5 linked regions of the Homo sapiens genome follow. The protein of the gene in region 1 interacts with the protein of each later gene in a biochemical or structural test. Each region holds a gene or a part of one and is shown in the gene's direction. Other genes may lie near its edges.

Region 1 (6,402 bases):
TGAGTTTATTCAGATGTCTGTTCAAAGAATTGTGGAAGACGCTCCTCCTATAGACCTACAGGCTGAAGCTCAGCATGCTAGTGGAGAAGTTGAAGAACCGGTAAGATAGTTCTAATAGTTACACAGGTACAAGAAGCGTATTGGTTTGAAATTTTAGCCCTTCTCTTACCTGGCTTAAAGGTTAAAAAAAGTCAGTTGGAGCTTTTAGCAAAGTACTTACAGCACCGTCAATCACTTTCTGATTTATTTTCTCTAATGAAGAGGTGTGTTTTTTTGCAAGTTATCCCATCCTTATTCACATAGTAGGTATTGAATAGCTGGGAAGAGAGGACTCTGAAATATGAACAAATAAGAGAAGTGAGCCAGAGATGGTCACATTGCTTTAGATAGATAACCCCGCTTTTTTCTCTCACAGTGTAAAAATAATAAAAAATGTTTGAAGGAATTTTCATCTGATTTTATATATTGCATGAAGTACATTATTATAACCATATGAGATAAGAAAGGAAAATCACCCAAACATAGCAGCTATCTTTACTAAGTTTCTTGTAGCTTTTGCTCACATATATGCAGGTTTTTTAGCATTGTTAAAATCATACTAAGGGTATAATTTTATAATTTGGTTTTACATGAGTGATTATAAGAAGGATGTAGTCCAAAATAATGACTGTCCCAGTTTTAGAGAAGTTGAGAGGCAGCTGTTGGAACATATTGGACTTTGAGAGACAGGGAAAACTGAGAAACAAAGTGAGGTAGGGAAAGCCCCCAAAATAGAGCTAGACACAGGGAGAGTTCATTGTTTCTAGCCTGATCAGTTTCTCTTCTGTGTAGCTTATCTCCTAAGTGCTGGTCTGTTATTTCCATTTTAGTTGGACATGCTGTACAGAATTTTGCTGTTAAGAATGAAAGTGATTGGCTCTTCTAGGGCTGTGCTGGAAAGGGGGACATTAAGTTTCTTTTTTATTCTTGGGTCATTTTTTTCTTTTTTACAGGGTCTATAGGTGCCCACCACCATGCTTGGCTAATTTTTTTGTATTTTTAGTAGAGATGGTGTTTCACATGTTGGCCAGGCCGATCTCCAACTCCTGACCTCAAGTGATCCACCTGCTTCAGCCTCCCAGAGTGCTGAGATTATAGGCATGAGCCACTGCACCTGGCTTGTTGGGTCATTTTTTCTTCATGGTCTTTGTATAACAAGCCAGATAACAATATAACATAGCAAATTGAACGTGCCAGTAACAGAAGTACTAAAAGAGGAGTAGATCTCTAACACCTAGTTATCAGAGCTTAGTAGAAAAGATGGAAGAGACTTAAATTTACTATGAAGAACTCTCTTAGAAGAGAAAAGGTGCTTAGTCATTTCAGCAAGGAAATATTTGGTGTGGCCGGTGCGATGGCTCATGCCTATAATTTTAGCACTTTGGGAGGCCGAGGCGGGCAGATCACCTGAGCTCAAGAGTTTGAGACCAGCCTGGCCAATATGGTGAAACCCCGTCTCTACTAGTAAAGTACAAAAATTAGCCGGGTGTGGTGCCAGGCACCTGTAGTCCCAGCTACTAGGGAGGCTGAGACAGGAGAATTGCTTGAACGTGGGAGACGGAGGTTGCAGCGAGCTGAGATCACGCCACTGCACTCCAGCCTGGGCGAGAGGTCGAGACTCTGTCTCAAAAAAAAAAAAAAAAAAAAAAAAAAAAGAAAAGAAAATACTTGGTGTATTTAGGCTGGGGACCACAATGATCAGTATGTGATTTTGGCTTATCTATTTTTTTTTTTTTTTTTGAGACAGAGTCTCGCCCTGTTGGCCAGGCTGGAATGCAGTGGCGCGATCTCGGCTCACTGCAGGCTCCGCCTTCCGGGTTCACGCCATTCTCCTGCCTCAGCTTTTTGAGTTGCTGGGACTACAGGCGCCTGCCACCACGCCCGGCTATTATTTTTTTGTATTTTTAGTAGAGACAGGGTTTTGCCGTATTAGCCAGGATGGTCTCGATCTCCTGACCTCATGATCTGCCCTCCTTGGCCTCCCAAAGTGCTGGGATTACAGGGCTTCTCTATTTTTAATAGGCATTAGGAAGATAAGATGGAACCCGATTGTTGAAAGCTTTGAATGTCATTGGATGTTATGAGGAATTACTGAGAGACTGTCAAAGAATATACATAAAGCATTATTTTAGAAAAGTTACTTTGGAAAGTGATGCTTGCTTGGAATAGAAAGAGGCTAGAGGAGGCCAGATGTGGTGGCTCATGCCTGTAATCCCAGCACTTTGGGAGGCCTAGGCAGGCAGATCTCTTGAGGCCAGGAGTTTGAGACCATCCTGGCCAGCTTGGTGAAGCCCCATCTCTACCAAAAAATACAAAAATTAGCCGGGCCTGGTGGTGCGCCTGTAGTCCCAGCTACTTGGGAGGCTGAGGCAGGAGAATCACTTGAACCCAGGAGGTGGAGGCTGCAGTGAGCCGAGATCACGCCACTGCACTCCATCCTGGGTGACAGAGTGAGACCCTGTCTCAAACAAAACAAAACAAAATGAAACAAAACAAAAGAGACTGGAGGAGATAAAAATCTTAGAATAGCCTATGATTAAGATAATAATGACCTAGACTAGATGATGGCACAGATAAGGAGTAGAGGATTGGCTTCCCTTTGGTTCGTTATCACCACCGTTCTCTTTGCCCTTTATCCAGCCCAGCTTGGGAGACTTGAGTGTCAATAATTAATCATTAGTAAAACGTCTGCTTACTCCTGTTTTCTTCTCTGAGACTTGATTTAGAGAAAAGTACACTATCCATTTATCTCTAGAAAGTTGTCCTCATGGATCTTGTTTTATTAGGCAGCAAGTGAATGTTTAATTGAAAAATTTCTTTTTTTTTCTATGAACTAAGCTATATTCCAGCCAGAGTTGGAAATTCTCAGCCCTTTATATAGAATGATTAGGATATTTTGTGTGTTTTTTAAAATAAAAAAATCTTTTTCTTTTGTTAACTCTACTCCTTTGACAGATTAATTTGTATATTTAACTGAAGAGAGGTTTATTTTTTAAAATGTTCTATTGATTAGATTAGAGCATAGTTCTAGTTGTCTGGATTTGTTATCTTTGTTCTCTGGTCACTTTGTATTTTTGATGATGCTTACCAAGGAGAGGGCACAAGAAACTATGTAGATCATTAATGTAAATCCATTTTAACTGTTTCATATAAACTCAGAGCACATGATGTGTACAGTCTTTACTTTTAGTATATTAAGTCTCTTTTTGTCTTCTGCCTTAAGAAAGCAATTAGCAGATCCTTCTGTAGTTGATAAGTGTGTGATGATTGGGTGTGAGATGTGCCTTCCTTAAACCTTGTTACAAACCTTGTTAGCACATTACCTGTCTAATGTGAAAAAAAATTTTTAAGAAAAGAGGAAAAAAGAAAGTGATTTGGTTTAAAACTTAACGTCTATGCAATATGGATATTGACTTTGGGAAGTCCCCATTTCAGTAAAATGGATTAATTTTGCCAGTTTGTAGAGTTGCTTGTACTTAAAATGTTAATGTCAATTAAAATGGAATCACTAAAACTTTTATGGAAAAAATTATTTACCCTTTTCATGTTTTTTTGTTTAATTTCAGCCACGATATTTGCTGAAGTTTGAACAAATTTATCTTTCCAAGCCTACCCATTGGGAAAGAGATGGTGCTCCTTCACCAATGATGCCCAATGAAGCTAGATTAAGGAATCTCACGTAAGAAAGAATTTTTCCTTGTCAGCAGTAGATACTGAAATAGAATTTTGAAAATGTAATTTTAACCACTTGAGGATTTGTTTTAACAGATACCCTATTGCTTAACTGTGATCTACTTTTATTTTCAAAGGTATTCTGCTCCGCTTTATGTTGATATAACAAAAACAGTCATTAAAGAAGGTGAAGAACAACTTCAGACTCAGCATCAGAAAACTTTTATAGGAAAAATTCCAATTATGTTGCGGTCAACTTACTGCCTTTTGAATGGCTTGACAGATCGTGATCTTTGTGAGTTAAATGAATGCCCTTTGGATCCTGGTGGCTATTTCATTATTAATGGATCAGAAAAGGTATAGTAACATTATTTTAAAAAATTACAAAATGGTAGTTAAAATTTAGTTTAAAGTTGAAATGAAAAAAAAAAAAAAAAGAAAGAAAGATTTTCCTGCAGGATAACCTGGCACTGACAGTTGACTTGTTTAGGGTATGACAGCTAAACTTATATAAACCAAAGCTTTATTTAGCTGTATATAACATGCACTGGGAATTTGGTCAGTTTTGGAGTTTATGTATTTCTATGAAGCATTTATGCAAAATGGAGTTTGTAAAGTTGAAGAATTAAATATTTCAGTGAGCCTATATGGTCAGATTAAATTAAGATGCAGATTTTACTCTCTTTTCTCTTCAGTGATGTTTTGGATTTTATGGCTGTAACTTTCTTATTGTCCAAATAGGTTCTGATTGCCCAAGAGAAAATGGCAACAAACACAGTTTATGTGTTTGCCAAAAAGGATTCTAAATATGCCTACACAGGAGAGTGTAGATCATGTCTTGAGAATTCTTCCCGACCCACCAGTACTATATGGGTTAGCATGCTGGCAAGAGGAGGACAGGTATGGACTGGATATGATGCTATTTGGGTTTATTCCTTTGTGCTTTGTTTTAAAATTTACTAGACTGCCTTCTTTGTCCATAGAAGCTTTTCTGGAGCATATTGTTGTTATATATCGTATTGTTTACCTATCGCTGTGTAACAAATTACTCCTCTAGCAACATTTATCATCTCACGGCTTCTGTGAGTCAGGAATCTGGGTGTAGCTTAGCTGGGTCTTTTGGCCAAGCAACTCTCACAAGGCTGCAATCAGATGTTTCCCTGGGCTGCCGTAATCTCAAGAGTCATTCCCATGGTTGTCTGCAGGATTTAGTTCTTCATTGGCTGTTGGACTGAGTCCCAGGTCTTTGCTCGCTGTTGGCTGGAAGCCTTTCTTTGTTCCTTGCCATGTGGGCCTCTGCGTATAGCAGCTGACAGCAGCATAGCAGCTTGCTTCTTCAGAGAGAGTAAGCAAAAAGAGCCATAGAGAGTACGAGCAAGGTGGAAATCAGTCTTTTATAACTTAAAAGTGGTAGCAACATCCTGTCATTTTTGCCATGTTCTTTTTGTTGGTTGCAAGTCAGTATGTCCAGCTCACACTAAAGAGGGTATTACAAGGGCAATAGTAGGAGGCAGGAATCATTGGGTACCAGCTTAGAAGCTGCAGACCACTGGTATAGTTATAAGCATAGGTTGCTTATAATAATGGAACCTGGTAGTAGCTAGCAGTTCTTAAATATTTGCTGTATGCCAATTCTGTTACTCAGATTGCTTGATTTAATTTTTACAGCTATCTTGGAAAACCTCTATTTCAGTTCATGTGTGTGTGTGTGTGTGTGTGTGTGTGTGTGTATGTATATGTGTGTGTGTGTGTGTATATATATATATATATTTTTTTTTTTTTTTTTTTTTGAGACGGAGTCTTGCCCTGTCACCAGGCTGCAGTGCAGTGGCATGATCTCGGCTCAGTGCAAGCTCCGCCTCCTGGGTTCACGCCATTCTCCTGCCTCAGCCTCCCGAGTAGCTGGGACTACAGGCGCCCGCCACCGCGCCCGGCTAATTTTTTTTTTGTATTTTTAGTAGAGATGGGGTTTCACCGTGTTAGCCAGGATGGTCTCGATCTCCTGACCTCGTGATCCGCCCGCCTCGGCCTCCAAAAGTGCTGGGATTACAGGCGTGAGCCACTGTGCCCGGCCTTCAATTTTATTTAATAATTATGCATGTGTGGGATGCAATGTGATATTTTGATACGTGTATACAATGTGTAATGATCAAATTAGGGTACTTAGCATACCTGTCACCTCAAGAATGTTTTTCATAATATTTTATTTGTAAGATAAGCATTCTTCCCATGTGCACAACATTGCTGGGTATTGTTAAGAGATCATGAAAACACACAATCCTTATTGAGAAGGTGGCCAGGTGTGGTGGCTCATGCCTGTAATCCCAGCACTTTGGGAGGCTGAGGTGGGTGGATTGCTTGAGCCCGGGATGTGAGACCAGCCTGGGCAACATGGCAAAACACTTTCTCTAGCAAAACAACAACAACAAAAACCCAAAAATTAGCTGGATGTGGTGGCAGGCACCTGTAGTCCCGGTTACTCGGGAAGCTGAGGTGGGAAGATGGCTTGAGTGCTGAGGTTGCAGTGAGCCCAGATTGGCGCCACTGCACACCAGCGTGGGTGACAGAGCCAGAGCCTGTTCCAAAAAGAAAAAAAGAGAAAAAAAAGAATGGTTTTATTGGGAATACAAGCTTTAGACATTAAATGGTAGTAACACAGTGCAGAGGCCAAATGACACCTATTACATATAA
Region 2 (5,159 bases), on another chromosome or scaffold:
ATTCAGTGAAAGGAAATTTGGATGACATGAACTCATTTCCATTAGACTTGAGCCACACAAATCAATGGGAAAAGAAACAGCTGAATCCAGGATAATATCTGGCTATTTGGAGTGGGCATGATAATGGAGGGAGATTGGGGAGGTAACAAACCAGCTACTATTAAGTTCAAGTCATGTCAGTTATTCAAATTCAGGACCAGTGGAACTTGTCCAGTATCATCAAGCAGCCAGTTATTATCAAAACCCAAGTCTTTGTCTCACTCACGGTCCACACCCCGCCCAGAGTCGTATCACTTGACTGCATTTGACCATTCAGTTTTCAGACCAACTCCATTGTTACTAGATATCCTGACACTGAAGAAGCTAAAACCAAACAACAATGACAACAACAAACCCAAGTCTGCCTTATGGCAGATTCTTCACGTCGTAACACCTTCCTTGGGACCCTATTTCTCAGTATGGACCTGACTCTCCCAGGGATCCTAGAATGCAAGCATAGTGATTGCAAACCAGACCATTTGAGGGAAACTCCTCCAGTAAGCACCCTGCATGGTCACAATGTAAACCCTGCAGGGGCAGAAAAATGATAAGCTTTGGGTCGGGTCGGAAAGCCATTTCCCCCACAATCAAAGTTCCTTAGTGTTTTCCTTGTGGGGGCGAGCTTATCTTCAGTTACCTTTTCCGGTCCTCTCTTGCAACCCCTCTCCCTCTCATCAGCTGAAAATTAGTGGATGCAGCTAGGGCTCTGAAACACATAAATAATCATAAGATGCCAGATAAACTGTATTGGTTTTAAATTAGAGACGTGCCGACCATGTCTCCCTCTGAACAGCAGCCTATTATTTTTAATTATGGCTTGCAAAGCAAAGTGATTTCTTGCCCTCTTTATAGCATCCCTGACAGTATTCTGTCAGTTTGGATGATATGATGCCTCATCACTGCACACGTCCCTAGCCACAGCCGCAACTGTTACTCAAAAGGTGAATGAAAGTGATCAGCTGCACTCTTTGCAACTTACATTTTGAAGTGGGCTGGGAGGAAATGTACCCCCTTACCTGTGGTCCCATTGTAAATCTGGGTCAAATATGACATTTAGAAAAAGGTTTTCATGGGATCTGGATGAATTAATGTGTTATGTGTTTGTGCTAAGTATGAATGTATGGTGAGGAGTGTGTGTGTGTGTGTGTGTGTGCATTAAATGTTTTAACACAACATTGCCAACCCTTCCCCTAGCAGCACCGTGGGCAAAGCATAAAGGGATGATCTGGCAGCAGCCCCACTTGGGTTTTCTACCTGATGGACCACAATTAAGAGTGGTTGGTTTGTCAGACAGAAGGTTCTACAAACGATTTGGTATCGAATTACATTATACATGGAGAAGTTGAGGGGTTGGATGAATTTGTTCTTGCACGTTCAGAAGGATACCATCTTTTTCTCTGTGTGGAAGAGGCGCCTGCCACGACGTATTGATATGTGTATTTATTTTCCAAGCCTGTCCCTGTATGAGGTGTCAAAAGTTACACCAGCTTTACAAGCGGAGTTTATGAACTCGTTTTTCCAGGATAGTCACATTATACTTTTTACAGTCATGTGCTTTCAGCCCAGTACCCTTTGCTATGCCAAGATCCAGCTGAAACTGAACCAGGTGGGGGAGGCCTGCTAATGCCCAGGCAGTCGAAATGACGCCATCTCATCACTCCTTTTCTTAAAATTTTTTTTTGTCTTTCTTCTTGGATTTCCAGCAACAGGGAGCTGCCACCACCGTGTACTGTGCTGCTGTCCCAGAACTGGAGGGTCTGGGAGGGATGTACTTCAACAACTGCTGCCGCTGCATGCCCTCACCAGAAGCTCAGAGCGAAGAGACGGCCCGGACCCTGTGGGCGCTCAGCGAGAGGCTGATCCAAGAACGGCTTGGCAGCCAGTCCGGCTAAGTGGAGCTCAGAGCGGATGGGCACACACACCCGCCCTGTGTGTGTCCCCTCACGCAAGTGCCAGGGCTGGGCCCCTTCCAAATGTCCCTCCAACACAGATCCGCAAGAGTAAAGGAAATAAGAGCAGTCACAACAGAGTGAAAAATCTTAAGTACCAATGGGAAGCAGGGAATTCCTGGGGTAAAGTATCACTTTTCTGGGGCTGGGCTAGGCATAGGTCTCTTTGCTTTCTGGTGGTGGCCTGTTTGAAAGTAAAAACCTGCTTGGTGTGTAGGTTCCGTATCTCCCTGGAGAAGCACCAGCAATTCTCTTTCTTTTACTGTTATAGAATAGCCTGAGGTCCCCTCGTCCCATCCAGCTACCACCACGGCCACCACTGCAGCCGGGGGCTGGCCTTCTCCTACTTAGGGAAGAAAAAGCAAGTGTTCACTGCTCCTTGCTGCATTGATCCAGGAGATAATTGTTTCATTCATCCTGACCAAGACTGAGCCAGCTTAGCAACTGCTGGGGAGACAAATCTCAGAACCTTGTCCCAGCCAGTGAGGATGACAGTGACACCCAGAGGGAGTAGAATACGCAGAACTACCAGGTGGCAAAGTACTTGTCATAGACTCCTTTGCTAATGCTATGCAAAAAATTCTTTAGAGATTATAACAAATTTTTCAAATCATTCCTTAGATACCTTGAAAGGCAGGAAGGGAAGCGTATATACTTAAGAATACACAGGATATTTTGGGGGGCAGAGAATAAAACGTTAGTTAATCCCTTTGTCTGTCAATCACAGTCTCAGTTCTCTTGCTTTCACATTGTACTTAAACCTCCTGCTGTGCCTCGCATCCTATGCTTAATAAAAGAACATGCTTGAATATCATCACCTGAAGTTTGTATTGTTTCTTTAAATGTTTGTTTCAGTTTGTTTTTGTTTTTCATTTTTTAGAAAAGAAATCTAGAGGAAAAATAAAGCGCTTCTAATAAAGCGCTTCTCGTAGATGCCAGGAAAACACGATTCTTGTTTCTTCTCTGAGTGAGTTTGTGTTTTGTTTTTGTGCTTTGTGGCTGTCCGTGGGCCAAGTTGTCTCACGCGATTAGCATGCCAGCATATTTTCTGTTAAAGAAAGAAAAAAGAAAAATGACTATTGTTTCATTTCACCTTAAGATGTTTTGTTATTACTTACTTACAGTGAGTTATTTTAGTCCTCAATGGTCTGCTCCCCTGCAATTAGCAAGTACTTAGTGATTAGCGGGTATCTCTATGTTTGAGAATGGGAGCTGTGCAGAAGCTCTTATCTGCGCATCCCATCTCATGGACACCATGATTTCCAGCCCGTTCCAGCAAGCACATGAGAAAGTCCACTCTGGCAAGACGGAGAAAATGCTTCTGCTGAAATACCAGGAAGGTGTGGAGGCTGGGTGTCATTGTTCCCCCTCCTGATCATGGCAGCTTCAGGCCAGACAATGTCTTGAACTTCTGTGCCTCTGCATCTGTGGTGCAGAGCAGTCGAACAAACAAACACCATTGCCCTCCAGTGGCCCATAGCCTTGCCACATCCTCCCATCTGGCTATAGTCTTCCTTACGTAATCCTTATTATCACAGGACCTTTGAAACTATGAATCAGATAATGTCACTTTTCAGACATTATTGTCATTTGCAAAAGCAGCCGTCAGAACTCCACTCTCAGAATCTACACCTGGAGGGGATCACCCCTCCCATATGACCTCTGACTTTGGCCATGTGACTGGCCTTGGCCAATTTGGAAAGTGCTTTGCACTGGGGCTTGCCTTTCCTTGTTGATCTTTGGAACCCTGCAACTTCCATCATAGGGAACGGCTCCTGGGCTAGCCTGCTGGATGATGAGAGACACGTAGTCACTCCCAGAACCGGCATCCAGCAGTTAGTTAGTTAGACATGTAAGTGAGGCCATCCCAGACTATCCAGCCCCAGCTGTGCCAATTCAGAGGAGAAGAAACTGCACATTTCACTCACAGCAATGCAAAAGATAGTAAAAGTTTATTTTAAGCCACTAAGTTTCAGGATTACATGTTACTCAGCAAAAGCTAACTGATACAGCTTCTCAGCTCACTAAGGTTAATTTTTTTCTACCCTACTTCTCTTATAATTTGGTCTCCAGCTACCTCTCTAATCTCAACTTCCAGCACTTTATCCACTAGAAGCCACTCTAGTCTTCCTCTGTTCCTCGAACATGCCAAGCACACTCCCAACTCAAGGGGTGCATATTTGCTGTTTCCTCTGCTGAAATGCTTTCCTTCCAGAAACCAGCATGCCTTTCTTCCTCACTGATTTTTAGTCTCTGCTCACGTTATCCCTGTCTTCATGGTGTCACCCCATTCTTATTCCCCTTCCCCTCTATTTTTTCTCCACAACACTTAATATTATTGTACACATTATGTGTCTATTTTTTCTGTCTACCCACTATAAGAAACTCCATGAAATTTGTCTGTTTTCTTCACAACTTGGCCACAGTACCTTGAACTGCTCCTGTCACACAGCAAACTTACTGACTTAATAAATAACCACTGAAAGAATGATTCTGGGTGACTAGGCTTTATGTTCAGGAAAATAATTTCCATCATTGTGACAATGATCCCGAGCCACACACTGTGCTAAGCAGGCTACATTACCACTGTCGCCCGGGCTGCAGTGCAATGGCATGATCTCAGCTCACTGCAACCTCCACCTCCCAGGTTCACGCGATTCTCCTGCCTCAGCCTACCAAATAGCTGGGATTACAGGTACACACCACCACACCTGGCTAATTTTTCATATTTTAAGTAGAGACGGGGTTTCACTATGTTGGCCAGGCTGGTCTTGAACTCCTGACCTTGTGATCTGCCCTCCTCAGCCTCCCAAAGTGCTGGGATTACAGGTGTGAGCCACTGTGCCTGGCTTTTTTTTTTTTTTTTTTTTTTTTTTTGAGACAGAATCTCACTCTGTTGCCCAGTCTAGAGTGCAGTGGCGTGATTTTGGCTCACTGCAACCTCCCTCCCCGGTTCAAGCGATTCTCCTGCCCCATCCTTCAGAGTAGCTGGGATTACAGGTGCCCACAACCACACCTGGCTAATCTTTGTATTTTCAGTCGAGATGGGTTTGACCATGTTGGCCAGGCTGGTCTCGAACTCCTGACCTCAGGTGATCCACCCACCTCAGCCCCCCAAAGTGCTGGGATTACAGGTGTGAGCTACCATGCTTGGCTATTACATCTGATTTC
Region 3 (6,402 bases), on another chromosome or scaffold:
AATTTTTTTTTTGAGACAGGGTCTCTGCTCTGTCACCCAGGCTGGAGTGCAGTGGTGTGATCTCTGCTCACTGCAACTTCCGCTTCCTGGGCTCAAATGATCCTCCTGCCTCAGCCTCCTGAGTAACTGGGACTACAGGCAATGCTCCATGACGCCTGGCAAATTTTCTTTGTTGTTGGTAGAAACAGTATTGCCCAGGCTGGTCTTGAACTCCTGAGCTCAAGTGATGCGCCCACCTTGGCTTCTGAAAGTGCTGGGATTACAGGCGTGAGCCACCGTGACTGGCCAAGACTGTAGACATTTATATGACTAGAAAGTAAGGCTAACACATGTATATTTTGACCTGTTGATAACTTTGAAAGGTGGAGTGCCAAGATTAAGGTGAGAATGGGAAAATTTAAGTTTTTTTTTTCCTATTGCTTATTTTTGCCTTGTTATACTTCTAGGTAAAAAAGATAGACAAAGTGCAGATGAACTATTTAGTTCAGAACACACATTTTAGAGATTCTGTTCTGTTAAGAGGAGTTTTGTGAAAACTAGATCTAATTTTAGGAATTTTCTCACCAGAAAAACGGAGCTTCATTTCTTAAACCCTCATCTGGAAAGATTCCTAAGCCTCCTAAGGCTGACATTGCACCTTTTGAAAGCCTGCCTCTAGGAGGAACATAGGTCATCTTTTCTTTTTTTTTTTTTTGAGACGGAGTCTCGCTCTGTCACCAGGCTGGAGTGCAGTAGCACGAATCTCGGCTCACTGCAACCTCCGCCTCCTGGGTTCAAGAGATTCTCCTGCCTCAGTCTCCTGAGTAGCTGGGACTACAGGCATGCGCCACCACCCCCAGCCAATTTTTGTATTTTTAGTAGAGACGGGATTTCACCTGGTTGGCCAGGATGGTCTCGATCTCTTGACCTCGCCATCTGCCTGCCTTGGCCTCCCAAAGTGCTGGGATTACAGGTGTGAGCCACGGCGCCCAGCCTAGGCCTTATTTTCAGAGTGGCTTTCATGGATCTAGTAGTGTAGGCATTATGAAATAATATGATACTTAATTTCATTGCCATTACAGCTTGATGTACATCAAACATCAATACATAAGCAGTTCTCTAAATGTATTAAAGAGTTGTACCAAAGAAAAATCAATAGACTTATCTTTTAAAGTCTGAAGTGATTGGGGCAGAATCGTGACTAGAGAGAAGATACTAGAGATGCTTACTTCCTGGTTCCTTCAGCTCTGATTTTGAAGAACTTTCTTCCATAGGGATGTAGTCTACCTGAGGTGACATCTGTGATAGTAAAGAGACTGGAGAATTATCTCATAATTATTTAGTACCTGTGTCTTGAAAGGTCAGAATAGTTGAGGCAGGAAACTTTAATCCATATTTTTCTTCAGAGTTAGGCACAAAGGGTCAGTAATACTGCTTTAGTTTATTTGATGATTTAAGGATACTTGATACTTTTAAATTATTTAATTTAAAATGATTATAACTGGTCATTTTAATCTGGGGCAGGAGTCCATAGAATTGTTTTTTAATTTGAGTTTTCTTTTTTGTGTTTGAAGGAATTATTCATAACCTTTATCACAGGGGTCCCTCCTGCACAGGAGGTGAGCGGTGTGTGAGTGAACATTGCAGCCCGAGCTCTGCCTCCTGTCAGATCAGCAGCGGCATTAGATTCTCATAGGAGCGCGAACCCTATTGTGAACTGCGCATGCAAGGGATCTAGGTTGTGCGTTCCTTATTCCTTATGAGAATCTAATGCCTGATGGTGGGATAATTTTTATCCTGAAACGATCACCTTTCCCCTTCCCTACCTGCTGTGGAAAAATTGTCTTCCGTGAGACTGGTCCCTGGTGCCAAAAAGGTTAGGAACCACTGCTTTATCAGATCTTCAGAGGGGACAGGGAATCAAATTCGTATAAGAATCACAGTTCTTTATGATGTATATGCTATTTTTTGCTGCTAATCTCCAGATTTTGTGGATATAAAATATATTGTCATCTGATTTTATTTTTTTCCAATAAAATGTGATTTCAGTGATCTTTATTTTTTCTATCTTTAAGTAATATATCCCTATACTACTATCTCATCACTTGTTTAATTTTTGCTAATAAGAATTTGTCAGTTTTACTCTTTTTTTCCCCCCAAGGGAGAGGCAGCTGTTGGGCAGATTCCTTTTTTTTTTAAAAAAAAAAATGTTTTTGAGGTATAGTTTATGTCCAATAAAACGCACACATTTAAAAGCATACCTTGATAGGCTGTGGTAAATGTACACGCCTTTGTGGCCAGACCATTTTCATCACCCCAGGAAGTTCCTCTTGGCTTTACAGTCATTGCTCATGTCCTAGGTAATCACTGATCTTATTTCTACCACTATAGATTTATGTTGTCTCTTCTAGAACTTTGTATAAATGGATACATGCAGTCTATTTTTTGTGTCTGGCTTTTGCTCAGTATAATGTGTTGAGATTAGTTCTTGTTGCATATATCAGTAATTTTATTGCTGAGTAGTATTTTGTATGATAATACTACAACTTGTAAATCCATTCACCTTGGGTGGACATTGGGATTGTATCAAGTCTTGGGCTATTAGGAATACAACTGCTGTGAATATTCTTGTACAAGTCATTTTGTGGACATTTTTTCCCTTTTGGGTAAATACCAGATACATTTGCTGAGTCGTAGGGTAAATGTGTAACTGTATAAGACACTGTCAAACCATTTTCCATAGTAGCTGTAGCATTTTACACAGCCATCGGTACTACTTAGGAGATTCCAGTTGCTCCACATCCTCGCTAGATATTGTCAGTCTTTTAAGTTTTTTTCTTTTTAGTTACATTGAATGTATAATGGTAGCTCATGGTGGTTTTACTTTCCATTTCCCTCATGTACATGTCTTAATTCATTGTACATCTTTAGTGTGTTTATTGGTTATTTTTATATCTTTTGTGAAGAGTATCTTTTGGCCACTTAAAATGCCAGGTCATTTGAGTTGTAACACTTTATATATTTTGTCAGATGTAAGTATAATTAATATTTTTTTTAGACTTCAGGGAAACTTTAGTTTTCAAAGCAATCTAGTTCAAAAATGAGTGGAGGTTAACAGAGAGGAAAATATGAAACCAGAGAGAATCAAACAGACAGAATAAGGGGGGACTGGCAGTTGGTCAGGGGCGTCTGTGACAGATCTTCTCTCTCTTGGAAATGAGGTCCTCACGGATTCTGGTCAGTTCATCATTTTCTTCACGTCCACGGTTCTGCTTCTTCCTCAGGCTCTCCTCGAAGGCCAAGACCCCTGTGGCTCCAACTTGAGTGAATATTTTCTTTAGGTTTCTGGTTTACCTTTTTATTTTCTGAAGCATCTTTTTAAAAAAGGCTTTAGTGTGATTGTCTATTCTATCGATTTTTCTCCTTTTTTGCTTAATGCTTATTTTCTGTCCAAGACGTATTTTGCCTACCATGGCCACAAAAATTTTTGCCAGTGTTTTTTCCTAGAAGTTTTATAGTTTTAGTTTTCACATTTAGGTCTATAATTCATGTAGAATTAATTTCTCTGTGTATGATGTAAGATAGAGATTTAGAGTCTTCCCCACCCCAAATGCAGATAGCCTGTTGTTTCAACACCATTTGTTGAAAAGAGTATTCTTATTCCTTTGAATTACCTTGGATTTTACCCCCTCCCCCCAAAAAAATCAGTGAATATATCCAATGCGTGTGTATTTTTTGACTCCGTTGTGTTCCACTGACCTCTTATGTCTGTCTTTACTCCAGTACTGCATTGTCTTCCCTTACTATATTATAGTGAGTCTTGGAAAGTGCTAAGAGACACTTTGTTGAGGAAAGCCTGTTCTTTTCTCTGGAATTTGTAATTTGTGGTAAGCAGATATATAAGATTTTTGAAAAATAATTTTCTGTGAATATTTTTAAGTTCTCAATCTGACTGTGAGTGAGGTGCATTAAAGATGTTATTTGAAGTGAACATGAAAAGGAAAAACTTGGTTGTTATTGACTGGAACTCTGGATTCGTATATTCAGAATGGTTGGTGAAGCAGTGTAGCTAGTTGCATCTGTGGATTCCTCTTGGTTGTAGTTTGTACTGCAAAATATTGCTTCCTAATGATTTTTTTTTTTGCTGGTAAAAACCATAAAAGTATATTCACATTGTTGTGAAACAGATTGCCGAAACTGTTTCATCTTGCAAAACTGAACCTCTGTGGCCATTAAACAACAGTTCCCCTTCTCCCAGCCCTGGTAACCACCATTCTACTTTTTGTTCCTGTGAACTTGACATCATGTAAGTGGAATCATAAAGTATTACCTTTTTCCTTTTTATGACTGGCTTATTTCATTGACGTAGTATGTAACAGGATTTCCTTTTTTAAAAGCTAATTGATATTCCATTGTGTGTCTATTCCACCCCCCCTCTCCCATTTTGTTTATCAGTTCATCTCTGGGTGGATATTTGTGTTGTTTCCACTTCTTGGCTCTTGTGAATAATGCTGCTATGAACATGGGTGTGCAGATGTCTCTTGGAGTCTGTGCTTTCAATTTTTTGGGATATATATTCAGAAGTAGGATTGCTGGATCATATGATAGTTTAAACAGCAATTTCCTTTGGTTGCAGTTTTGATACTGAGAGTAGTACAGTTGACCCTTGAACAATGCAGGGTCAAAATGCAAGGCACCAACCCCTGTGCAGTTGAAAATCTGGTTATAACTTTTGACTTTGTCAAAACTGCTAAGTATAGCCTACTGTTGACTGGTAGCCTTAACAGTAACATAAACAGTTAACATATATTTGTATGTTATATGTATTATATACTGTATTCTTACAATAAAGTAAGCTAGAGAAAAGAAAATATTACTAAGAAAATCATAAGGGAGAAAAATTACATTTTACTGTACTGTATGGTGTTTATCAATAACATTAGTTTACGTTGTCTGTTTATAAGATATGTCATCTGTTAATAAAATATGTCATCTGTTAGAAATTGTAGGCAACCACAGCTGCAGATTTCAGTCCGTGGTACATATCAAGCAATTCAACTTTTTTATTTTTATTTTTATTTTTATTTTTTTGCATTTTAAAATTAAAGACAGGATCTTGCTGTGTTGCCCAGATTGGATTCAAGCTCCTGGGCTCAAGTGATCCTCCGGCCTCAGCCTCCTGAGTAGCTGGGATCATAGGCATGCACCACTGCTTCTGGCAGTTTTTTTCTTGTGATGTCATGCCTTCTCTCTGCTTCTTGGGAGCACTTTCAGCATCACTAGGGGCACTTTGTATAGGACTCATGGTGTTATTTAAAGTTTATGGTATTGCAGTAATCATGATGAAAAATAATGTGAAAACCGTGAGAGATCACTTTTTACTGCAATACGCAATTTGTTGGAGACATGAACTGCTCAGCAGAGATGATTAGCATCACATGGTGTTTTACACAAGGTGTTTTAAGCAGATACTTGTAACATTTGAGTACACTGAGATAACAGGAAGTGGCTATGAAGTTAACACTAGTACACTACTGTAGTTAATTTTATGCAGTTATGAATTAATACTCCATCTTTGTTTACATTTCTCTCTAACTTCATATAATAGATTTGTATGTTTTATGATAGTAAGTGATAAAATAACCTCATATCTAGGTATGTTTTATGCATTCATGACATACCTAACTTTTTCTTAATGTTTTCGTTATTTCTAGGCTATGCAGTTGTTCTGTGAGTTTTTTCAAATTGTCAAGTCTGCAAAAATTTTTCCAGTATATTTATTGAAAAAAATATGCATATAAGTGGGACCTGCACAGTTCAGAGCCATGTTGTTCAAGGGTCAGCAGTAGTCATTTTCATGATTAGATGTAGAGTGAGCATGCAGCAAGTTGTGAATATGAATACAATTGAAACAGATACCACTCTTGAAAGGAGCACCTCTTTTTATGTTTGTTTCTTTTGCAGATTGGGAAAATGAGGTACGTTAGTGTTCGCGATTTTAAAGGCAAAGTGCTAATTGATATTAGAGAATATTGGATGGATCCTGAAGGTGAAATGAAACCAGGAAGAAAAGGTGAGGTCTAATTACTTGAATTTTATTACAGTGTTAGGACTAAACGACAACTTTTCTGAGTAGCTTACTTGAAATGTTGGCAGGACACACGGGGCAAGGAAGAGTCTTACTCAATTGATTCTCTATCTTCTGTAGTTATTTTGGACATGATACTTAACATTTTTTTAATGAGATGTCTTAATACAGCTTTTGGGAATAAAACCCAGAAAAGTAACACCCCTAATATCACTTCAGTTGGCTGCTAATTTACTTGAACAATTTTTAAAAAGGTTTATGCAATTCTGAAGCAGATTAGGCACTATCTGGGAACTTGTAAAATCAGGAATGGAAAATCTTGGTTTACAATGCTT
Region 4 (6,402 bases), on another chromosome or scaffold:
CTGGAGTGTTCCGCTAATATCAGAGAAGACTGAATTTAAACAAAGAATGCTTCTACAGGTAAAGAAGGACGCTTTATAATGATAACGGATGGAATTACGATGCTAAGAGCTGGATCCATCGGGAAGAGTGACAGTTGCTAGCACATGTGCACCGGAAGTGAGAACCAACTCACCAGTGGCAGAAACTGACAAGCAAAGGGAGAGGCGGCCATGGCGAGACCTTGGAGGTTCCCCCGCCACTCAGTCATGGGGGGCGTCGTGGGAGGATGCTGCCCCTGGAGGGGCCACAGACCAGTCCTGAAGCTCTTACAGGAACGCAGGAGACCCTGGAGGGTCTTGAGGAAGAGCAGGCCAGAGGACGCACATCGTGCTTCAGAGTAACGGAGGCTGGTGTGATGACAGTGTGCTGGGCCGTGGAGCAGGAGTGTCCATCCCAGAACAGCCCCATGTCCATGGCCAGCTGGCTCTCAGCAGGGGTACCAGGCCACTCCATGGGAAAGACTTGTGGGTCCTGAGAGTGGGGTGGGGAATCAGAAGGTGCTCCTGGGATTAGGAGGTGTCCCCACGACATGTAAGTTCATGTGAGTTTCAGGCTTTTCCAAAGCAGTTGTAATGACTGTGGCATGGATAATTTTTGTGGGGAAGATGAGTGGTCAGCACACATACGTGTTTGACTGGATTGTGCGTCCCTCCCATGCGCGTTCTGTCCCTGCGTCCCTCCCGTGCGCGTTCTGTCCCTGCGTCCCTCCCGTGCGCGTTCTGTCCCTGCGTCCCTCCCGTGCGCGTTCTGTGCCCGCGTCCCTCCCGTGCGCGTTCTGTGCCCGCGTCCCTCCCGTGCGCGTTCTGTCCCCGCGTCCCTCCCGTGCGCGTTCTGTCCCCGCGTCCCTCCCGTGCGCGTTCTGTCCCCGCGTCCCTCCCGTGCGCGTTCTGTCCCCGCGTCCCTCCCGTGCGCGTTCTGTCCCCGCGTCCCTCCCGTGCGGGTTCTGTCCCCGCGTCCCTCCCGTGCGCGTTCTGTCCCCGCGTCCCTCCCGTGCGCGTTCTGTGCCCGCGTCCCTCCCGTGCGCGTTCTGTGCCCGCGTCCCTCCCGTGCGCGTTCTGTGCCCGCGTCCCTCCCGTGCGCGTTCTGTGCCCGCGTCCCTCCCGTGCGCGTTCTGTGCCCGCGTCCCTCCCGTGCGCGTTCTGTGCCCGCGTCCCTCCCGTGCGCGTTCTGTCCCCGCGTCCCTCCCGTGCGCGTTCTGTCCCCGCGTCCCTCCCGTGCGCGTTCTGTCCCCGCGTCCCTCCCGTGCGCGTTCTGTCCCCGCGTCCCTCCCGTGCGGGTTCTGTCCCCGCGTCCCTCCCGTGCGCGTTCTGTCCCCGCGTCCCTCCCGTGCGCGTTCTGTGCCCGCGTCCCTCCCGTGCGCGTTCTGTGCCCGCGTCCCTCCCGTGCGCGTTCTGTGCCCGCGTCCCTCCCGTGCGCGTTCTGTGCCCGCGTCCCTCCCGTGCGCGTTCTGTGCCCGCGTCCCTCCCGTGCGCGTTCTGTGCCCGCGTCCCTCCCGTGCGCGTTCTGTCCCCGCGTCCCTCCCGTGCGCGTTCTGTCCCCGCGTCCCTCCCGTGCGCGTTCTGTCCCCGCGTCCCTCCCGTGCGCGTTCTGTCCCCGCGTCCCTCCCGTGCGGGTTCTGTCCCCGCGTCCCTCCCGTGCGCGTTCTGACCCCGCGTCCCTCCCGTGCGCGTTCTGTGCCCGCGTCCCTCCCGTGCGCGTTCTGTCCCTGCGTCCCTCCCGTGCGCGTTCTGTCCCCGCGTCCCTCCCGTGCGCGTTCTGACCCTGCGTCCCTCCCATGCGCGTTCTGTCCGTGCGTCCCTCCCATGCGTGTTCTGACTCTGCGGTCTCTTCAGGGTTTGCCACTCGAGGGTGTCGGAGGTGGAGGTTGTGTTCGTTCTCCCTTCACATAGCACGCGGAGTTTTGGTTTGTGAAAGTTTGCTTTTTCGTGTTTTCATAGCTACACAAACTGCATCTCTTGGAAAAGTGAGAGCGTTTTGACAACTGCTGTCACTGTGAACAGGTCAGGAGGCCCTGCCTTGCCCACCCCATACTTAGGGGCTTAAGAAACAAGGTCTCACTCTGTTGCCTGGGCTGGAGTGCAGTGGCACGATCATGGCTCACTGGAAGCTTGAACTCCTGGGCTCAAGGGATCGTCCCGCCTCAACCTTCCAAGTAGGTAGGACCACAGGTGCGCACCACCATGCCTGGCTAATGTTTTTAAAATTTTTTTGTAGAGATGGGGACTTCCTTTGTTGCCCATTGAGACCAGCCTGGCCTCAAACTCCTGGCCTCCAGCGATCCTCCCGCCTCAGCCTCCCAAAGTGCTGGACCTACAGGTGTGAACACCGTGCCCACTGTGCCTACCGTGCCTAGGGGTGTTAAAGTGGTCCTTGGTGCACAGGGCTAAAGGCTCCTGGTCGCGTGACTTGACCGTGTGCTGCCAGCCACTCTGGTGCCTGCAGTTTAGAATTTGGGTACAAAGCTGCTGAATCAAATAGTGTTTTTTAATGATTGCCCAATTTTAAATGAGAGACATTAATTTTTTTCCAGTCCTTTCATACCAATACACGAAGCAGCAATTCTTACCCTAAAATAGGTCACTGAACTTCCCACTTTAAAGAGCCCCGGCCTGGCAGCAGGCTCTCGGAGGGGAGGGTCAGGTGTGGTGAGCGCCCGGCCAGCTCCCTGCTGGGAAGGGCCCCTGCCCCTCTTCCACCTGTAACACACACAGGTTCATTCTAATGCCATGAGATTGCTGAGGAGAGCATGACAATGTTCACACCCAGAGCTGTGGCATCCCCGCTGGGGCCCTGCGGGAACTGGGACTCAGGTGCAGACGCCACGGAGGGAGGGCACCGCTGGCTCTCCCTGGGCCCGGGCCCACTCTCAGCAGCAGACCAGCTCTTGCCGCCTGCTTTCCTTGGCAGAGCCCAGCCCTGTGTTGTAGGTGGTTGGACTGTTGGGTCCCGCTGACGTCATCTGGTGGGTTCCTTCCAGGTCCCCGCGGAGCCCCCCACGCTTGTGTGAGGCTTCACCTGCTTTGGGCAGCCCCAACGCCGCTCTCACGCCACGTTCCACTCCAGGGTGCACTGGGGAAATTATCCGCCATGCGCAGCGCCTCCTGCAGGTGTCCGGTGCGTGCAGACCTGGCCACGCCGGCACGGGTTTTTTAGTGACGTGGCGGCCTCACGGTGAGCAGCACTGGTCTTCCCTTTTGTTCCCGCGGCCACGCTGGCAGTGGCCACGGGAACCCTGTGCCTGTGGATTGTTCCATCCCCTTTGGATTAGATGCTGGTGTGACACAATTGTGCATTTGCCGCACTGACGGATATCTTTCCGGTGCCAAATCGTGTGCACTGTGACAGCCCAGTGTGTTTGGAAAACTGAAATATGGGGGTGGGGTATACATATATATTATTCTGTTTGTATTCTTGCCTTATTCAATGTTGAATTTGAGATAAATGTTAAAGCTGTAAATTTTCCCCAAATTCTATCTGTTAACATTTCTCTATGGAGCTGTGCAGCTGGTTGTATGAACAAAATACAAATATTGCATGTTATGCTGAGGAAGTGAAGCTAGTATCAGTTGCGGACATTTACTAACCATAGTCTGCAGCTGTGTCTAATGTTCGAGGTAATTTTTAATGACTAAAGTCCATTCATCTCGTATTTTTAAATCCCATGCTCCAAACATCGTTTAACTAAGAGCAAAGGTTTTGTGCCACCTTAGTGAGGCGCTCCCTGTACTTCATCACGGAGCGAGACCGAGGGTGCAGCATTCGCAGCACCAGGAGGGACCGCGCAGGGCCTGGGGGGACCCATGGAGGGAGGGCCGCCCCAGCCCGGGCTCTGTGACCCCTCAGGGTGGAAGCCGTTGACCTGGTCCCAGACACTCAGCCTCATGGAAGCCCTGACCCTGTCTCCCGAGTCAGCTACGTTTTTCCAAAGTGCGTGGAGGACGTTTCTCAGCATTCTTACCAGCATCGTGAGGTCCAGGCCCCTGCTGTGAGATGGGGATGGTGGCGCCTGCCCGCAGGTTTCTTGTGAAAATCTAAGGAAGAAGCACTTAGCACAGCCCCAGACCACAGCGTCCCCAGCTGTGGATCCACAAGAAACTGTTCCCAGCGAATGCCATGAGCGCCTGCGGCCGCCTCATCTCACACAACAGCGACAGAGTCATGATCAGAGGCCTTTAGAGTCATCATTATCATGTCTGTGTGTGAGCCGTGACTGCCTGGGAGCCGTGTCTGCCTGGGAGCCGTGACTGCACATGAGCCGTGTCTGTGTGTGAGCCGTTCTGTGTGTTTGCCGTGTCTGTGTGTTTGCCGTGTCTGTGTGTGAGCCGTGTCTGTGTGTGAGCCGTGTTGGTGCATGTGCACAGGGCTCTCCAGCGGGAGCTGAGGTGGTCCCTTCCGTGGGCTCGGTTCAGGTCCTGTGGCACCCTGCCAAGTTATGCTGGCGTTTCTGAAGGTGTGTCCTGCTGTCAACAGCACTCTGGGTGTTTTTGTCGGCCTTGTGAGGGGAACATATTTCTAAACCTCAAACAGAGAGTCACAGCTGGCATTTCCCATTCTTTGCCATCCTCTTGCTGCCATTAGAACTCTGCCACGGATGGCTTCCTCGCTTGATTTTAGAAAGAAAAGAATTGTTGGAACTGGTTCTTGCACCTCTCGCCCTCCCCCTCCTCTCCCTGCTTGCCCCAGGGTCCCGCCTGGCTCTCGTCTGCCCCGTCTTCACTTTCGGTCGGGGCCCCTGCCCCTGCCCCTGCTCTGCTCAGTGCCCCTGATACGTCCAACCCAGCGTCGCTGTGAGGGAGTCAACCACACCTGCCAGCACCCCCGAGTCTGGCCCCACTAGGAGGGGCCAGGGCTCCCTTGAGCAAGGCATCAGCACACAGGCAGGGAGCCGGGCACCAGACTGTGAGGGTCGCGCCCCGTGCACACGAGATCCAGGCCCGCCCCCTCCTGGACTTGGTGACCGTCCCGAGCTCGACCTGAGAGGGCACTTCGGCTCTCCTGTTCACAGTCATGACTGCCCCCTCCCCGAGGTCAGCGCCATGCACTGCTCTGGGGGCCTGAAACACCGCCTCTGTTCGCAAGGGTCTCCTGTCCCGTCCACCTGCCAGTGGGTTGAGCTCTTCCAGGGGTTCGGGACACCCCTCACGGCAGCACCTTCACGTTTACGAGAACTGTCTCTGTCTTGTTTTGTTTCAAGTTCTCAAAACGGAGTGAGGTGGAGGAAGCCTAATGGGAGGATGGGAGCCGGGTTTTCCCGGAACAGCCGTCAGCGTGTATGCGGAGGAAAAGAGATGACTGATGAATTTGTTAATTGCCAAAAGCTTGTTGCTGTAGCAACCGGAGGCCAGACTCGTGGCCCTGACAGCGTCGTTAGTGTCAGCAGAGACTGGAAATAAAGGAAACTCGTGTATGATACGCCTGGCGTCCTCAAAGCAAACAGCAGGCGGTGCCCAGCCCAACACAGGCACGGGCACAAGATCTGCAGATGAGGCATGGAGGGGAAGCGGGCGGTGCCCAGCCCAACACAGGCACGGGCACAAGATCTGCAGACGAGGTGTGCAGAGGGGAAGCAGGTGCACAGAAAAGGTGCGCGGAGATTTTTTTTTTTTAAGACAGGGTCTTGCTCTGTCGCCCAGGCTGGAGTGCAGTGTTGCGGTCATGGCCCAGGCTCACTGCAGCCTCCATTTCCTGGGCTCAGAGGATCCTTTTTCCTCAGCCTCCCAAATAGCTGGGACTCCAGGCATGCACCGACACTCCCAGCTAATTTGCAACCCCTCACTCTCATGTAGCAATTAAAAGTAAGCCTTTATTTCTCAGTAGAAAATATTCATTCCAGTTGACATAAAAATAAATTCGTTTAAAACTTGGACGGCAGGTATTAGGGCGTGCACTTCCCGCTACTCTGCCTTTTTTTTTCCCCCCCGAGACAGAGTCTCGCTCTGTCACCCAGGCTGGAGTGCAGTGGCGTGATCTCAGCTCACTGCAACTTCCGCCTCCCGGGTTCAAACAATTCTCGTGCCCCGGCTTCCCGAGTAGCTGGGACTACAGGTGCCCACCACCACACCTGGCTAATTTTTTGCTTTTTTTTTTTTTTTTTTTTTTTAATGTGGAGATGGGGTTTCACCATGTTGGTCAGGCTGGTCTTGAACTCCTGACCTCAGGTGATCCGCCTGACTTGGCCTCCCAAAGTGCTGGTATTACAGGTGTGAGCCGCCACGCCCTGCCTACTCCGCTTTTAAATGATGGGATGCATTGCTTTTTAAGAAAGGATCTCATGGATCCAGGGGTCCCAGTATGTGATGAAAGATGGCAGTTCCCATCTTACAGAGCGGGCTGGACTCAGAGGCAGGCCGGGGAGGGAGGGG
Region 5 (6,402 bases), on another chromosome or scaffold:
CACTTAAGGCCCAGGGCTCCTCAGTCAGCTTATGCTGGATGCTGCCAGGCCTGGGACTCATCTTCAGGGTAGTGGGTTCCCCTCTGTTCCAGGGGTAGGTCCAGAAATGCCATCCAAGAGCCAAGGCCTGGATTCATGGACCCTAGTAGCCCACCTGGTGCTCTTCCCCAGGGCAACCAAGCTGGTCCCTAAGCTGCAAGACAGAATCTCCTTTACTCTTCCCTCTCATTTTCTCAAACAGGAGTCTCTGCTGGTAGCCACTACAGCTGTGAATGTGCTGTGTCATACCTGAAGCCAATATGTCTCGGAGTTTCACCTGAGGCCCATGGTGAGGCCCTGGTTACCACTGCTGATTATTCAGGGCCCAGGGGCTCTATAGTGAGCAAATCATGAATCCTAAATGGTCTACTTTAAGAAATTCTGTGGGTTTTTTTGTTTGTTAGAAGTAGAATCGCCTGTTCTGTTGCCCAGGCTGGAATGCAGTGGTGCAATCATAGCTCACTGCAGCCTCGAACTCCTGGGCTCAAGCAATCCTCCCACTTCAGCCTTCCAAGTAGATGGAACTACAGGCACATGCAACCATGCCCCGGTAACTTTTTTTTTTTTTTTTTCGAGACAGAGTCTCGCTCTGTCACCCAGGCTGGAGTGCAGTGGCACGATCTCGGCTCACTGCAAGCTCCGCCTCCTGGGTTCAAGCGATTCTTCTGCCTCAGCCTCCCAAGTAGCTGGGACTACAGGCGTGTGCCACCATGCCTGGCTAATTTCTGTATTTTTTTAATAGAGACGGGGTTTCACCATATTGTCCAGGCTGGTCTTGAACTCCTGACCTCGTGATCCACCTGCCTCGGCCTCCCAAAGTGCTGGGATTACAGGCATGAGCCGCCGCACCCAGCCAATGCCCCAGTAACTTTTTACATTTTTTGTAGAGACGGGGTCTTGCTATGTTGCCCAGACTGATCTTTAACTCCTGTACTCAAGCAATCCTCCTACCCAGGCCTCCCAAAATACTGGGATTGCAGGCATGAGCCACTTGTGTTTTTGTTTTTTTGTTTGTTTGAGACAGTCTCTCTCTGTTGCCTAGGCTGGAGTACAGCAGTGTGATCATGGCTCACTGTAGCCTGGGCTCAAGCAATCCTCCTGCTTCAGCCTCCTGAGTACTTGGGACTGTAGGCACGTGCCACCACTCCTGGCTAATTTTTAAAAATGTTGAGTAGACACAAGGTCTTGCTATGTTGCCCAGGCTGGTCTTAAACTCCTGGGATCAAGCGATCCTCCCACCTTGGCCTGTCAAAGTGTTGGAATTTACAAGTGTGAGCCACTACACCCCGCCAGTCTTTTCTTGATTACTGACAGTTTTCTAAAAAGCAGTGAGAGAATGTTCTTTACCCAGGTAATTTATTTTGTGTAAGACTAAACCTGTTAATGTAATTTGTTATGTTTATTCAGAGTAACAACATTTTAACCATCACAATTTGTAATTTTGCTTTTTGAAAAATGTGGTGTCTAAGAGCATATTATTGGGCTTATTACCAACTCTACAGCATGTTATTTTCTGTATCTTTCCTCCCAAGTAGCCTAATTTGAAGTTACGTATTTATTTTTAATCAGGGTACCCTTAGTTATTTGGTCCACATTGAACCTTGAAAAGGTAAAATAGATTTTTCTTAATTTTATTATTTGAATGTGTAGTTCAGAAACTTAAGGGACAAGGGTAGGTATTTGATTCTCTCTTATATTGTTAATTTTATCTTTCTGATCATGATTCCTACTCTCTTTTTGCCTAGTAGGTACATATTGGTTGCTAATTGTTTTTTTTTCTGTGGCGAAGTATTTGAAGTATTTACACATTATTCATTGATTCTAAATAATTTAACACATTTTTAATATATTTGGGTTTTTTTCCGTTTCTACCAGATCAAACTTGGACATAGATCAGAAGCTAAAGATGGTAAGTATTTCATGTAATCTGACAGATAGGAAAAGTTTTCTCCTTTTTTTTTTTTTTTTTTTTTTTTTTTTTTAAAAAGACAGGGTCTTGCTCTGTCACCCAGGCTGGAGTACTGAGACACAATCGTAGCTCACTGCAGCCTCAAACTTAGGTACTCAAGCAGTTCTCCCACCTCAGCCTCTTGAGTAGCTAGGGCTGTAAACATGTGCCACCACTTGTGGTTAATGTTTTATTTTTTGTAGAGATGAGGTCTGGCTGTGTTGCTCAGGCTTCTCTCAAACTCCTGGCCTCAAGCTATCCTCCCACCTCGGCCTCCCAAAGTGCTGGGATTACAGGCTTGAGCCACCATGCCCAGCATAAAGTTTTCATTCTCACTGAAGAAACGAGCAAAGTATGAATTAATAAGTTAGTAATGGTTCTGGATAGAGTTACTGCAGGGTCCCCGAAGAGTAAAGATAGACTCAGCATAGAGAAGGAGTATTTGGTGATTTTTACTTACTGGATATTCAGAGAAACATTCCAAATCACCCACATAAATGGAAGGCAGCAAGCTTAATTAGTTTGTCTTTCTGTCTTCATTACTGTTTTAGGTGTTACAAGCCATTGTTTTTTCTGTTTCTGAGTTTCTAATTACTTTGAAAATTCAGGATACATTTTCATGAAAGTACATAAAGCTTACTATGGAATAGATACATGAGGAAATTATTTCATTAAACTTTCTTCCAAAGTCTTATTTATTAGGATTCATCATAAAATAGCTCTTACAAAAGAGACCCATTGTCTGTGTAAGTGCCAATACTATATCTTATTTTTATTTTGTTTATTTTTTTTGAGACAGAGTCATGCTCTGTTGCCCAGGCTGGAGTGCAGTATCGCAATCTCGGCTCACTGCAACCTCTACCTCCCGGGTTCAAGCGATTCTCCTGCCTCAGCTTCCTGAGTAGCTAGGATTACAGGTGCACACCACCATGCCCAGCCAATTTTTTGTATTTTTAGTAGAGATGGGGTTTTGCCACCTTGGCCAGGCTGGTCTCGATCTCCTGGCCTCAAGTGATCTGCCCACCTAGGCCTCCCAAAGTGCTGGGATTACGAGCCACCGCGCCCGGCCTGTATCTAATTTTTAATTTTGAAATCTGTCATTTGTATTGGAAAATATACTATCTTATCACTAGTTTGCTTTTAGCACAAACAATATGCCACTAATATTTGTAGGGCAAGAGTAGGGAAGCTTATCACCTATATGCTGCACACTTATATATGTTGTTAGTCTAGTAGTGGTGTTCAGATCCTGGTATAGATAAGGTGAAATATTTTTCACCATTTGTCGTAGTCTTTGTTAAGCTATTTTAAAAGTAAAGCAATATTGGCCTGGTGCCATGGCTTACGCCTGTAATCCCAGCACTTTGGGAGGGTGAGGTGGGTAGATCGCCTGAGCTCAGGAGTTCGAAACCAGCCTGGCCAATATGGCAAAACCCCATCTCTAACGAAAATACAAAAAATTAGCCAGGCGTGGAGGTGCACACCTGTGGTCCCAGCTACTCGGGAGGCTGAGGTGGGAAAATTACTTGAGTCTGGGAGGTGGAGGCTGCTGTGAGCCGAGATCATGCCACTGCACTCCAACCTGGCTGACAGGGTGAAACCCCATCTCAAAAAAAATAAATAAATAAAAATAAAGCAATGTAAAAGAACAACAGATTTGACATAAAAATTGTCAAAGTAGCCCTTATTTTTGTGGGTAATGTTCACTATTTTCTGAGATTACTAACCTTTCTTTAAAAATATGTGTTTGTGGCTGGGTGTGGTGGCTCACGCCTGTAATCCCAGCACTTCAGGAGGCCAAAGCGGGTGGATCACGAGGTCAGGAGTTGGAGACCAGCCTGATGAACATGGTGAAACCCCGCCTTTACTAAAAATACAAAAATTAGCCGGGCGTGGTGGCGCGTGCCTGTAATCCCTGCTACTCTGGAGGCTGAGGCAGGAGAATTGCTTGAACCCGGGAAGCAGAGGTTGCAGTGAGCCGAGATCACGCCACTACACTCTAGCCTGGGCGACAGAGCGAGACTCCATCTCAAAAAAAAAAAAAAAAAAGAAGTGTTTGTAAGGTTTGAGATTTCAGAATTATTCACTTTTTGCTTTGCCTTTTTATATAGGTATAAATAGAACCGCCTTAAGAGAGATAAAATTATTACAGGAGCTAAGTCATCCAAATATAATTGGTGTGAGTATGATCAAAACTGTTACTGGGATTTGGGACTCTGCCTTTTCTTAATATAATGGATGTTGATTAAAGGCTCAGCAAGATGACTTGTTCTGGATGAGCCTTGTAGAAGCTTAAAGGAAATACATTTTCTATCCCAGTTGTTTTGGTAGGCATTGTCTTCAAAACTATACCACTGATTAAATAAATGAAATATTGACATGTAGGCTAATTTTGTCGGAAATAATTTTGAAGTCTAGGGAGCTCTAGCATGTAGTGGCTGAGAGTGTCAACCTGAATTCAAAACCTTTCTTTCTGCCTGTGTGAGACCTTGAGTGTGTTCACTCACAACTCCCCAGAGTCCCTGCCTCATAGGGAAGTTGTGAGACTAGCCAATTGAATAGATGTAAAGTATCTGGAATAGTGCCTACCATAGAAAATGTATTCATTCATTCAATGATAGCTGCTGTTATTTAGAGGATTTCTTAAGAATCACATTTGGGACTTTTCTTTTGAATTGGAGACTGGAATGAGGTTTTCATTGGTTAATTTCTTAATTCTAACTCCAAATATTTGGGGAAAGAGGTTGGGTATTTTTTTAAGTAAAATTTAATATTTTTATGCTTCAAAATACTAATTCCTTTAGTACTGTCCAAAAAAGGACAAATGTCAAATTTAATCAAATGATTTAAGCTTTATAGGGAATTACCAACAGTTTAAATGCTTTTTAAATTTTTAAAAATTGCCTCAGTTGCTATGATACTGTCAGGTATTAAATAGTGAATCACATTTTAATTTTTTAACTTTGCAGCTCCTTGATGCTTTTGGACATAAATCTAATATTAGCCTTGTCTTTGATTTTATGGAAACTGATCTAGAGGTAAGATTAAGATTCCTGGAGAAATTCCTTTGTCCCAGTTTATCAAACAAGAACCTAAATATTTGTTTTCTACCCAAGAAGATACTGGTAGTAAAAGAAAAAAAGCTTAATTTTGTTGAAATTTGGATGTACTCTGAGGCAAAAGGATCTCTAGTTATTTTCTTCTAATCATTTAGTGATATCCCCAGTGTTACATACAAAGATTTGGATTTCATTGGCATTTCTGCCTTCTAAGTTCCCATAGCTAGTTGACGTCATTTTTGGAGAAATGAGCATTAGACCTATAAGATTTGTTTGCTTTTTTTTTTTTTTGTGATGGAGTCTCAGTCTGTTCACCCAGCCTGGAGTGCAATGGCGTGATCTCGGCTCTCTGCAGCCATCACCTCCTGGGTTCCAGTGATTCTCTCACTTCAGCCTCCCAAGTAGCTGGGATTACAGGTGCCACCACGCCCGGCTAAATTTTATATTTTAAGTAGAGACGGGGTGTCACCATGTTGGCCAGGCTGGTCTTGAACTCCTGACCTCAAGTGATCTGCCTGCCTCAGCCTCCCAAAGTGCTAGGATTACAGGCATGAGTCACCATGCCTAGCAACCTATAAGAATTTAAAATTTATTTCTGGCCAGTGCAGTGACTCACGCCTGTAATCTCAGCACTTTGAGAGGCCAAGGCAAGAGGATTGCTTAAGCCCAGGAGTTCAAGACCAGCCTGGACCCCATAGATCCTGTCTCAGCTTTACAAATTATATTAAAAAATAAAGAAACTTATTTCCATATAATCAGAGTAATGTCATTCTTTTGAAAGCCAAGTTTTTTTGTTTGTTTTTGTTTTTGTTTTGTTTTTTTGAGACAGAGTCTTGCTTTGTTACCCGTGCTGGAGTACAGTGGCGCGATCTCAACTCACTGCAACCTCTGCCTCCCAGGTTCAAGCAATTCTTGTGCCTCAGCCTCCTGAGTAGCTGGGATTACAAGCGCCCATCACCATGCCCAGCTAAAATAGAGATGGGGTTTCACTATGTTGGACGGGATGGTTTCAAACTCTTGACCTCTGGCGATCTACCTGCCTGAGCCTCCCAAAGTGCTGGGATTATAAGCGTGAGCCACCATGCCCGGCCTCTTTCTTTTAGATAAATACCTAGCAGTGGTATTGCTAGATCACAAGATTATTGATTAGTGGTATCGATCACAATATTAGTGATGCTGTTATAGATCACAATACTAATGGTATTGATCCTGGAAGGACCTATCATAATAGGCTATGGACTCACCACTAGGCTATGGATTGCACCATTGCACTCCATCCTGGGTGACAGAGTGAGATTCCCATCTCGAAAAAAGAAAAAAAAAAGAAACAAAAACGTATGCCAGAATTCAGTTGGT

What was found.
Region 2: the proteins of POLR2B (region 1) and WWOX form a complex in vitro, tested with the Homo sapiens proteins (one study listed by BioGRID).
Region 3: the proteins of POLR2B (region 1) and SUB1 form a complex in vitro, tested with the Homo sapiens proteins (one study listed by BioGRID).
Region 4: the proteins of POLR2B (region 1) and CTDP1 form a complex in vitro, tested with the Homo sapiens proteins (one study listed by BioGRID).
Region 5: of the proteins of POLR2B (region 1) and CDK7, one has a biochemical effect on the other in vitro, tested with the Homo sapiens proteins (one study listed by BioGRID).

What each region holds. Positions count from the first base shown.
Region 1 is NC_000004.12:56,990,799-56,997,200, forward strand, and holds part of POLR2B (DNA-directed RNA polymerase II subunit RPB2), read left to right. Parts: coding exon 1-100; intron 101-3,276; exon of another isoform or gene 3,277-3,372; intron 3,373-3,605; coding exon 3,606-3,718; intron 3,719-3,848; coding exon 3,849-4,068; intron 4,069-4,452; coding exon 4,453-4,611; intron 4,612-6,402. UniProt on the Homo sapiens protein: Catalytic core component of RNA polymerase II (Pol II), a DNA-dependent RNA polymerase which synthesizes mRNA precursors and many functional non-coding RNAs using the four ribonucleoside triphosphates as substrates.
Region 2 is NC_000016.10:79,209,866-79,215,024, forward strand, and holds the end of WWOX (WW domain-containing oxidoreductase), read left to right. Parts: exon of another isoform or gene 1-1,742; coding exon 1,743-1,931; 3' UTR 1,932-2,802; downstream 2,803-5,159. UniProt on the Homo sapiens protein: Putative oxidoreductase. Acts as a tumor suppressor and plays a role in apoptosis. Required for normal bone development. May function synergistically with p53/TP53 to control genotoxic stress-induced cell death.
Region 3 is NC_000005.10:32,593,018-32,599,419, forward strand, and holds part of SUB1 (activated RNA polymerase II transcriptional coactivator p15), read left to right. Parts: intron 1-5,943; coding exon 5,944-6,052; intron 6,053-6,402.
Region 4 is NC_000018.10:79,744,552-79,750,953, forward strand, and holds part of CTDP1 (RNA polymerase II subunit A C-terminal domain phosphatase), read left to right. Parts: intron 1-6,402. UniProt on the Homo sapiens protein: Processively dephosphorylates 'Ser-2' and 'Ser-5' of the heptad repeats YSPTSPS in the C-terminal domain of the largest RNA polymerase II subunit. This promotes the activity of RNA polymerase II.
Region 5 is NC_000005.10:69,250,504-69,256,905, forward strand, and holds part of CDK7 (cyclin-dependent kinase 7), read left to right. Parts: intron 1-241; exon of another isoform or gene 242-325; coding exon of another isoform or gene 326-328; intron 329-1,914; coding exon 1,915-1,948; intron 1,949-4,098; coding exon 4,099-4,166; intron 4,167-4,956; coding exon 4,957-5,025; intron 5,026-6,402. UniProt on the Homo sapiens protein: Serine/threonine kinase involved in cell cycle control and in RNA polymerase II-mediated RNA transcription. Cyclin-dependent kinases (CDKs) are activated by the binding to a cyclin and mediate the progression through the cell cycle.